3 linked regions of the Homo sapiens genome follow. The protein of the gene in region 3 purifies or fractionates together with the protein of the main gene of each other region. This does not show direct contact. Each region holds a gene or a part of one and is shown on either strand. Other genes may lie near its edges.

Region 1 (3,654 bases), on a different chromosome or scaffold from region 3:
TTTTTTTCCTCTGCTTTAGGTGAACTGATTGACAGGTGATTGTTTCAGGCAAGGAACATTAAATTAAACATGTAGAAGTGTGCAAATATTTGTTATTTTGAATTAGAATGCTTGTGTATTCTTTTTCACATTTATACTTGCTTTTGACTACCAATATAGGTAGAAGAGCTTTGTAAATTGTAAAGTAATATGTCAATATTAATTTTTGCAACTTTAGTTGTGACATGGAAAGAATCTTGATCATCTTAAGAAATATTAATTTTCTAAAATACTAACTTATGTAGTTACAGAATGTGGGGATAATGTTTTTAATATGGACAGAAATAAAAGCAAAATAGCTTTTGAAAAAGCATTTTCATGTATTTCAGAAGAGATCACTACAGGGGGTGTCTTTTAGGGCGAGGGGTTGCATAGATACCTCTTTACATCATGCAATGAAGAAGAATCTACTCAGAAATGTGGAAAAAGATTAACCTTAGAGGAGACGAAGTTTGTTAAAAAAAACAAAAAAAAAAAAACCGATACGTCATCTGCAAAGCAGAACATTCTTACTTCAAATGTGTCCCTTGGTGCAGTACTTATAAACAATGTCAGGTAGAAAACTATAATGACTTCCTTTTTCATTTGCAGAAAGCAGAAGCCACTGGAGAAAAACGGCCAAGAGGCAGACCTAGGAAATGGGTGAGTAATAAGATATAATTTTTCTTCTTTTTTTTAAAGAAAAATTTCTGTTGTATTAAATGAGAAAAGTTTTATTTCGTCGATTACATGAATTTCCAACTTCTGGTTTGATGAATCTTTGAAAGGGTTAAGTCAAGAGACAAATTATCATCACTTCCTACCACTAGGCTCCAGGTGTTTACGTAGAACACTTTTCTTTCCTGAAGGTGGACTCATTTTTCTATCTCTTATCAACATCAAAAGAGGCTCCACTCTTCCTTCAAATAGGGTAACAATGAGATGATTTGTTCAGTAGATTGAGTAACTAAAGTTAAAGGGTATTATGAAGCCTTGGAAGTTGATTACAAATGGTGTTAAAATTCATACACAATGTGTATGTGATAACTTTTTAACGTTTTTCTTTTTTCTTTTTCTTTCTTTTTCTTTTTCTTTTTTTTTTTTGGTTTTCTCCATGGCTTTTGTTTGGACACATCTCATTTTCTAGATGGTTTGTGTTTTCTTTTTCACATGGCTTTGTTAGGAAGCAAGGGTTTATTTTGAGTTTTTCTTGCTTCCCTTAGTAGTCATTCTCCACATGCAAACATTAGAGATAGCTGTATCCATACAAGTGCACCTGATCCTATAGGCACACAGATCCTGTATCTTTTGAGGCCAGAAATTCAGTGGTCACTGAAGAGCTTTGCTAATTTTACTGCTTGAACTTTGTTCCCTTGTTTGCTGTGTTACCCATGTTCTTCTGGTCTGTCTTTCCCACTGACGGAGAAAAGAAGTCCTAAAAATGAATGAAATCGTTTCTCAAGAAGGATGAGGGCATCCTTTATACCCAGTGTTGCATATGATGGGTTCTTTGGCTTTGCTTTTTCCTCTTCCTCAATTCTTTCTTCATGCTTCAAATTTTAAAAAGATTTTTTTTTTCTGTTATGCTGGATTATATGTTCCTGTTTGCCATTCCTTTCTCCTCTAGAGTTCTGCATCACTTTCTATTTATACTTTGGTATTGCCTTTCTTTTAATTTATTCATCTTATATTTTTCCTCTGCTCAACATGTGTTGGGATTAGATTTCTTAGCATAAGGAAATGGGATGATCTTTAGATGAAAAACATCTCAGTGTTAAAATGTGACCTTAAAGTAAGGATATTTCATTCAACCTTCTGTTCATTAAATTAGTTCTCTCCAAACCTACTTATCAAGTGGTGATCATCTAGCGTGCTTGATTACCTTTAAAGTTAGGGAACTTGCTACCTCTCAAGGCTGCCTCTTTCTTCTAGGAAAGCTCTGCACATTAGAAAATTGTTCCATCTGACTACCTGTAACTTCCGTCCACTGTCTCTAGGTCATCCTTCTGGGAATATATAGAGTAATTGTTTTCACTTTCACTCATGATAGCCCTGCAAACGGTTGAGGGCAATTAACACATACTGTTTGTATGTATCTGTGTTTGTATGTAACACATACTCCAGTTTTCTCATTTTTTCCCCATAAAGGAACATTCTTGTTATTCTTTTCTGAACATGTTTGTTCGTTAATCTTTTGAAAGATGTCACCTAGAACTAAATATCATATTTCAAGTGTGGGTTCCATAAACAGTGGGTTTATCACCTTCCTTGTTGTACATATGGTTCCAGTTATCGATTGCTGCATAGTTAACCACTCTAAAACTTAATAGTGTAAAAAAACTATTTTATTATGCATATGGATTCTTTGGGTCAAGGATAGGCAGGGTAGAGCAGAAAGTCTTGTCTCTGCTCCATGATGTCTGGGGCCTCCACTGGGAAGACTCAAGCATCAGGGGATGACTTTAATACTTGGGATCCAGAATCTGGAGCTGTTTCACTTACAAATCTGGTGCTTTATCAAGATTGGCTGGAAATCTGGGCGGATCTGGGAGTGCGTGCACTGGATCACCCATACATGGCCTCCCCAGGATAATCAGGCTTCTTACATGCACTCAGGACTACCTCTGGGAATTTTCTGGTAACTGAGGAGGAAGCTGCAAGGCCTTTTTTGCCTTAGACTCGGAAGTCAAAAACTGCTGCTTCCATTATACTCTAATGAGCACATTGTTGACTAAGTTGATACTGGCATACATATCAAATAGAGATCTGCTGTTTTCTAAGCATCAGAACTCTGAAAGGACATCCCATACCATTGAACTAATTAATAAGAAAGACGTGTATAATCTTTCTAATAGGCAACATAATAGAAAATAGATGAGTTCTTTGAAGCCATGGGATTAATGTGGCTAAAATGAAATTAAATTGCAAGCGAATACAGTGGCAGTTAACCAGCAAACTAACCTCCATCATATGGGGCCTCTTAACTCTCTCAGCCTTTCATCTCCTCTGCCCTTGGGCTGTCCTATAATGGTCACCAATTCACCTCCATAGGTTAGAGTCCTGTCTTCTCCGAACCTTCCTATGGCTCCACATCTGGCCAGCTAGTTAATTACAGCCTGCCCTAGTACTTCGAAGTCATTCAGTTTACATCTACCTTTCTTTACAGTTTTCTTTCTCACCACACATCCTTAAACAGTTGATGATTCAGCCAAGCAGGAGTAAACTATAGAGCAATTAAAGGATATATATGTTTTTTTTCTTAACGGATTCTTGCTAATTTAGGGGGGATCTGGATTTCAGGCATCAGATCTTCCTGCTGGGTAAGAAGCACATGTGAGGCCCCCACCACAGAAATCCTTGCCTTTCTGAGAATAGCTGGGCCATTTTCTTTGACTCTCCTGGTTTCTAATTTTTACTGGCTGTGAGAATGGAAAATATTATGTGGTGAATTGTTACAAGTCCCTGATTTGGTCCCCAAAGAAGAGTTGTTCTACTGAGAAGAGGAAATAAAAGGAAATTGTATATTTTTTCTAGACAGTGTGTTTCCTCTTTGCTTGTATATCTTCTGTTGGGTAGAGTATGCAGCCAGTCACAGCAAGGCATTCCGTTCAATGGCATTCTTTGCTGGAAAGCTTG
Region 2 (3,654 bases), on a different chromosome or scaffold from region 3:
AAATACAAATGGACAGATCCCTGAGGGTACACTCAGTCGGGGAAAGTGGAATGGCTGTGGATGGGGAGAGCTACCTCTGAGTGCCAACAGTATGCAGCACCTTTTACCCATTATCTCATAGGTATTAGCACCTGTGATATCAACTTAAGTTCAGTTCTTTGAAGTCAGGTGTTACGTCTCCTGTAGCACCATTCATAGGCACTTTCACATCATTGGTGCTTAGTAAAATGCCTTCCTCATGAAAGACTTGAAGGAATACGATACATTTCCAGAAATCTCTTCAAAAGAGCAAAAAGTTTCTGAGTTACAGATTTAGGAAGCTGAATCTGGTTAAAATCAAAGACTCTAGTATTTGCAGTTTTTGAAGGAAATTAAGCAGGGGAGAGAAGTATGCAGCTATTAAATTTCATTACTAAATGTCATCTTTAAAATTAATTCTTGGTCTGTACACTTTTAAAGTATTAACAATTTCTTAGTGTTTGAGTCATATACTTCGTTGTTAACAAATATTTCTTCAGCCTACTCCTTCCTACCCTTCAGCCATTGTTTTTAATTTTTTTCTTTTCTAAAGTTGTATATACAGCAAAAAGATAACATTTAATATTGATGGATAGGAGTCCTCTCTTGCATTAGCAATAGACTAGATAGTGAAAAGTTTAAAAAGGTCTGTAATTTCATATTGAAATTTCTAATTTTGCCTTAATAAAAAGAACTTACTTTTGAGAAAGGTTATGTTCTTTTTTTCACATGTATAAACAATGTTTAGTTGCTTATTTCAGCTCTCTTCTGAATGTTTGCTCTCTGTGCAGTTGATGAACTCCAGAAACGAGTGAACCAGTCTGAGAATTCAGTACCTCCACCACCTCCTCCTCCACCACCACTTCCCCCTCCACCTCCCAATCCTATCCGGTAAGCACATCCAGGAAGACTGCTCTGCATCAAATGTTCTTCTCCATCAGATTGTGCCATAAGAGGAGTCATCTTAAAAGCATGAAAGATACTAGCTGATGCTTCTCTTGGAAATTTTTCTAAAGGCCAGTGATATGGTTTGGTTGTGTCCCCACCCAAATTTCCTCTTGAATTGTAGCTCCCACAATTCTCACGTATCGTGGGAGGTAATTGAATCATGAGGGTGGGTCTTTCCATGCTATTCTCATGATAGTGAATCTCATGAGATCTGATGGTTTTATAAAGAGGAGTTCTCCTGCACAAGTTCTCTCTTCCCTGCTGCCATGTAAGATGTGACTTGCTTCTCCTTGCCTTCCGCCATGATTGTGAGGCCTCCCCAGCCATGTGGAACTGTGAGTCAATTAAACCTCTTTCCTTTATAATTACCGAGTCTCGGGTATATCTTTATTAGCAGCATGAGAATGGCCTAACAAGCCAATATATTATTCCCTTCTTGTAGTATACAAATTTCATTCAATAACATTAAGATTTCCTTTAATGGTAAGAACAAGGAATTTTGAGCTTTTCCAGAATGTGTTTACTTTTCTGTCTTGCTAATTCAAATTTGAAAAGCTGTGGTTTGTTCAATTATTTTAAAAATAAAAATACTAAATGAAAACGTAAACATGCTAATTGTTATAAACTAGTAATTAAACTAGAAGTATTAATTACTTTTATCCCTAACCTCATATTTATACCTTTAGTAATGCTAAGAGAGGAACCGTCCATAAGAAAGATAGATTATGTTTAAATTCTTGTGGCAGGAAGTCACATATGCAGACAGGAATTCGTATTTTCTGAAGCCTAAGGTGACATGATGGCATTATGTACATCACTTGAGCACAATACACACTAGGAGATTTAGAGTCAAATTTTGCCTTTTTTGTGGTTCCACATGCCACCATCTAGAATTACATAAGACAACCTCCTTGCCATGGTGACAGCTTACATGCTCATGTCATGATGTTAGCTGCTTTTGTATAATTTATTCTTTAACAAATGGCATTTTAAAACTTTTTCTAGGGTTTTTTTTTTTTTTAAACCTTTCATTAACTCATGTGATTTGTTTAATCCTTTCACACAGAGAGGCCATTTATTCATACTTTGCACCTTTGCTGATCCATCTGAATAGAATGCGTAGCATGTTCCTCCCACACAACTATGAAAATGGGACTTTGCCTTTTAAAAAGATTCTCATTAGTTTTCCTTACTGAGTAGGGTATGACATAATCTACTTTAAGCCATTGAAGTAGTTAAGGCAAAATAATTTTTACACGTGATCGATCCAAGAGTCAATTGAAAGAATTTCAGGTATTTTAAAATCTTTCTCTCCTGGGTAGCTAAATCTGTAGGAGATATTCTGGATTTGACATTTAAAATTGGAAATTCATCACTTTGATCTTTCTCTAAGGTCTGGGATTTTGAGCTGATAAGAAAGGTCACTTCTGTCCATGAAGAGGGAGAACGATTAAAAAGTAATTACAGTCTTGCTGTTGGCCTTTAATTTTTATTCTCAGAAATGTTGAGAGCCCCTAGAATTAAAAGTAAAGTATAACCTAAGTAGAATTTTTTTTCCCAAAGAGCACTTTACAGTTACGCTGAGAAACGAATGTTCAGGACTATTTGTGTCTCAAGTGTGAACTCTTTTATAAGGCTCTTTAAAGAAAATTTTATTGAATAATATGATTTTTATTTTAAGATGAATTTAAATAGTATAGGACATAATTTTTTAAAGAAAAGAGTTTTTTTTTTGTGAGGAGTGCTTTCTTGTCAAAGAGGTATATTTGCACATGTATTGAGTTTGAGTGGATTTTGAATTCACAAATCAAAGTTTTCTAACTTTGTTCCTGATCTATTTGTTTTATCCTGATGTAAATCATGGTTAGAAATGAAAGTGGGAAGAAAAAAAAAGACTAGGGCCTGTAGCTTAAGTGGCTTACTGCTTTTCCCTTCTCTTCCCACTCATTTGACTCCAAGAATAGATAGAAGAAAGAGGAAGAAGGCAAACCTTGGTCACTTTGTCCCAGTGGTAGTGAAAGTAGGACAGGTTCTATGCAGATATAGTTCATGGGGAGAGGGTTGAGGCTATTAAGTGCTTTTTTTAGAGAAACAGAACCAATAGAATGTGTATATCTATAGATACAGATATAGGCAGATATAAATACAGATTTATTATAAGGAGTTGGCTCATGTGATTATGGAGGCTGTCAAACCCCAAGATCTGTAGGGTGAGTTGGCAACTTGGACACCCAAAAGTGTCAATGGTGTGGTTCCAGGCTGAGTCTAAGGGCCTGAGAACTGGGAGAACCTATGGTGTAGTTTTATTCCAAAGTTTGACAGGCTCAAGACCCAGGAAGTGGCAGTGTTTCAGTTCAAGTTCGAAAGCAAGAAAAAGCCAATAACCCAGTTAGAAGGCAGTCAGGCAGGAGGAATTCCCTGTTAGTTGAGGGAGGATCAGCCTTGTTGTTCTAATTAGGCCTTCAAATGATTGGCTGAGGGCCACCCACCTCAGGGAGGACCATCTGCTTTACTCAGTCTACTGATTGAAATGTTAATGTCATCCACAACATCCTCATGGAAACACCAGAATAGTGTTTAACCAAGTATCTCAGGCACCCCGTGGCCCAGTCAGGTTGACACACAAAATAACTATCACAGTGGACATGACGAACACCTCTTGAAAAACTAACAGGTGAAGGCCGGGCG
Region 3 (3,654 bases):
ATTCCTTACAAGGACTCAACCCCTGCGCCTTTTTGTTTGTTTTTTTTTTAAGAGATGGGGTCTTGCTATGTTGCCCAGGCAGGAGTGTTTTGGCTATTCACAGGTGTGATAATAGGGCACTGCAGCCTCAAATTCCTGGCCTCAAGTGATCCTTCCATCTCAGCCTTCCAAGCAGAATGCATCCTGAGCCTTTTTGTCTCTTTTAGTCTTTAAAGTAATACCCCTCTTATTTCTGTACTTACTGAAATCTGCTTTCCAGAGGTCCAGGATTGAAGTCTGACTCTGCCTGGTGTTCTTTTCCTTAGTGATTTATGCACTTTAAGATGGTATAGATTCTTTCTCCTAAAATTCTCATGACTTTCGTTTTCCTGATACTGTGTTTCTTTCTTTTTAAAAAATTTTTATTAGGGACGGGGTCTAACTGTGTTGCTTAGGCTGGTCTTGAACTCCTGGGTTCAAGCGATCTTCCCACCTCGGCTTCCCAAAGTGTTAGGATTACATGCATGAGCTACTGTACCTAGCCTCTTTTGGATGACTTAAGTGCACAGTAGAGAGTCCCTTCATTACTTCCTCAACCTTATTTTTCTTTATTTAAGAAAAAAAGTACAGTAGAATATATTTATCATGGGAAAATGAAAAAGTACAGAAAACCAAGGTGCAAAATAAGTTTAAGTCAAACAAAACTCAACCGCTAGGAGATAATGGCTTAAGACTTTTTCCTATTTGATTATATTCATATATAGAAATATATACACATTTAAACAAAAATAGAATTTACTCTGTTTTCATTCTCCTTGTTATATCCAGTTAGTCATTAGCTCTACTGAGTCTTGGTTGATGCCTGTGGGGCCGTGCCTATTGTACTATGTAAAAGCGTAAATTCAAGTAAAGAATTGACCCATGAGGCCAGGGATGGTGGCTCACGCCTGTAATCCCAACACTTTGGGAGACTGAGGCAGGTGGATCACCTGAGGTCAGGAGTTTGAGAACAGCCTGACCAACATGGTGAAACCCTGTCTCTACTAAAAATACAAAAATTAGCTGGGCATGGTGGTACATGCCTGTAATCCTAGCTACTCAGGAGGCTGAGACAGGAGAATCACTTGAACCTGGGAGGTGGAGGTTGCAATGAGCCAGGATCGTGCCATTGCACTCCAGCCTGGGCAACAAGAGTGAAACTCCTTCTCAAAAAAAAAAAAAAAGAATTGACCCATGTGCTGTATATGCTGCCTGGGGACAACGGCCTTTGTGGTGAAGGCTGAGCATAAAACACCCAAGACTTGGCAGTGGAGCAGGTGTGTCCTCCTTGTCAGAAATCTTGGCTGAGCGATACTTCCCTCCCAGTTTTGGCATCTGTCTACAGCAGGAGTGAACAGGAGGCTTGAGTTTGAGCTAGAGGATTAGCTGGGGAGCTCCCCCCTGCCCACCATAGAGGAGTTCCAGTTTAGCTATGGAGAGCCAGCAGTGCCCAGCAGAGAGGGCATAGCTGAGTTACAGAAGAGAGTCCTGGTATAATCTTGGTTATTTTTGTGTTATCTCAGACTCTGTGGTGGCTGGAGGGGGCAGTCCAACGACAGCAGGACCAGCTGTCCTCACAGCCTCAGATGGCTGAGTCTGAGGAGAGGAGAGGAGAAAGTAATCTACTGAAATAGATGTAAGGCTATCAACCCAGGGTGGGTAAGTCTGGGGAAAAGTCATTAACTTCCCTTGGAGAAGCAGCAACAAATAGAGGCAAAAAGAAAATCTGGCTGGGTGCAATGGCTTATGTCTGTAATCCCAGCACTTTGGGAAGCCAAGGCGGGTGGATCACCTGAAGACAGGAATTCGAGATCAGTCTGGACAACATTGTGAAACCTCTGTCTCTACTAAAAATACAAAAATTAGCTGGGCATGGTGGCAGCGCCTGTAATCCCAGCTACTCAGAAGGCTGAGGCAGGAGAATTGCTTGAACTTGGAAGGGGGAGGTTGCCGTGAGCCTAGATCATGCCACTACACTCCAGCCTGGGCAACAAGAGCAAAAATTCCGTCTCAAAAAAAAAAAAATAGAAAAAAAGAAAATCTGAGGCAAGTGGGCTTGCGTTCTTTTTGGGCATTTTATACATTACTCCATCTCTTTTCTTCCAACAGATCCACAGACCAGCATGGCTGCCACTGCTGCTGTGAGTCCCAGTGACTACCTGCAGCCTGCCGCCTCCACCACCCAGGCGAGTAGGCAGTGGGCTCCGAGGGCTTGGGGCTGCAGCATCCTGGACAGACTCACCGAAAACACTCTCTCTTCACTGTCTCACTATAAATACCCTAGGTTATGAGACTGGGGAAGGTTCAGTTAGCCACATTTTCTTTACTGAGAAACTATGGCCATTTACCTAAGGTGCCGCAGTTGGGCCAGGGGGAAAAACAAGGATTAAACTCTGTGTTCCTTCCACCAGACCTCACTAAAAAAGGAAAAGGAAAACAGAGGCTTTCTCATTGTCTCGAAAGTGTAGCCCTCCCCAGTCTATAAAGTTACATGTTCCGAGTACTAAAAAGCACTTTACTGAAGTATTTATTCCTCCTGTTGCCCCTCCATTTTTTCCTCCCTCCTTTCCTCAGTTGAGCAATCAGGGACCCCTCAGTCCCTGGGGTGGGCTAACAAACTCCATCTGAGAGCCAAACATGCTTCACTGTCCTTAGAAACAAGGCCAGCGGAGAGTAGGAAGTCAGCTCGTGCTGTTAGTTTACCCTGTCTGTGGGGTGCTGCCAGGGGTTCCTTCCTGAGAAAGACATTGCCCACCTTTTCTCCCTCACTTAATGGAGAAACCAGTAGAGAAGGGGAGACAGCAGCCAAGCAGGGGAGGGTACTGGCAACATGCCTGCCCCGGAGGTGGGGAAGACTGGCGTGGAATGCCGCCAGGAGGAGAGGATCATGGACAGAGGCGGCCGGGCAGCGGGCCTTCCTGTCTCACTCCTTTTCTCTGCTGTTTTTTTGCAGGACTCCCAGCCATCTCCCTTAGCCCTGCTTGCTGCAACATGTAGCAAAATTGGCCCTCCAGCAGTTGAAGCTGCTGTGACACCTCCTGCTCCCCCACAGCCCACACCGCGGAAACTTGTCCCTATCAAACCTGCCCCTCTCCCTCTCAGCCCCGGCAAGAATAGCTTTGGAATCTTGTCCTCCAAAGGAAATATACTTCAGATTCAGGGGTCACAACTGAGCGCCTCCTATCCTGGAGGGCAGCTGGTGTTCGCTATCCAGAATCCCACCATGATCAACAAAGGGACCCGATCAAATGCCAATATCCAGTACCAGGCGGTCCCTCAGATTCAGGCAAGCAATTCCCAAACCATCCAAGTACAGCCCAATCTCACCAACCAGATCCAGATCATCCCTGGCACCAACCAAGCCATCATCACCCCCTCACCGTCCAGTCACAAGCCTGTCCCCATCAAGCCAGCCCCCATCCAGAAGTCGAGTACGACCACCACCCCCGTGCAGAGCGGGGCCAATGTGGTGAAGCTGACAGGTGGGGGCGGCAATGTGACGCTCACTCTGCCCGTCAACAACCTTGTGAACGCCAGTGACACCGGGGCCCCTACTCAGCTCCTCACTGAAAGCCCCCCAACCCCGCTGTCTAAGACTAACAAGAAAGCAAGGAAGAAGAGCCTTCCTGCCTCCCA

Evidence for each region.
Region 1: the proteins of SP2 (region 3) and HMGA2 purify together in Homo sapiens (affinity purification with mass spectrometry; one large-scale study listed by BioGRID and IntAct). This does not show direct contact.
Region 2: the proteins of SP2 (region 3) and SHTN1 purify together in Homo sapiens (affinity purification with mass spectrometry; one large-scale study listed by BioGRID and IntAct). This does not show direct contact.

The regions. Positions count from the first base shown.
Region 1 is NC_000012.12:65,837,889-65,841,542, forward strand, and holds part of HMGA2 (high mobility group protein HMGI-C), read left to right. Parts: intron 1-630; coding exon 631-681; intron 682-3,654.
Region 2 is NC_000010.11:116,925,047-116,928,700, reverse strand, and holds part of SHTN1 (shootin-1), read left to right. Parts: intron 1-809; coding exon 810-909; intron 910-3,654. UniProt on the Homo sapiens protein: Involved in the generation of internal asymmetric signals required for neuronal polarization and neurite outgrowth.
Region 3 is NC_000017.11:47,913,185-47,916,838, forward strand, and holds part of SP2 (transcription factor Sp2), read left to right. Parts: intron 1-1,541; exon of another isoform or gene 1,542-1,677; intron 1,678-2,127; coding exon 2,128-2,204; intron 2,205-2,971; coding exon 2,972-3,654. UniProt on the Homo sapiens protein: Binds to GC box promoters elements and selectively activates mRNA synthesis from genes that contain functional recognition sites.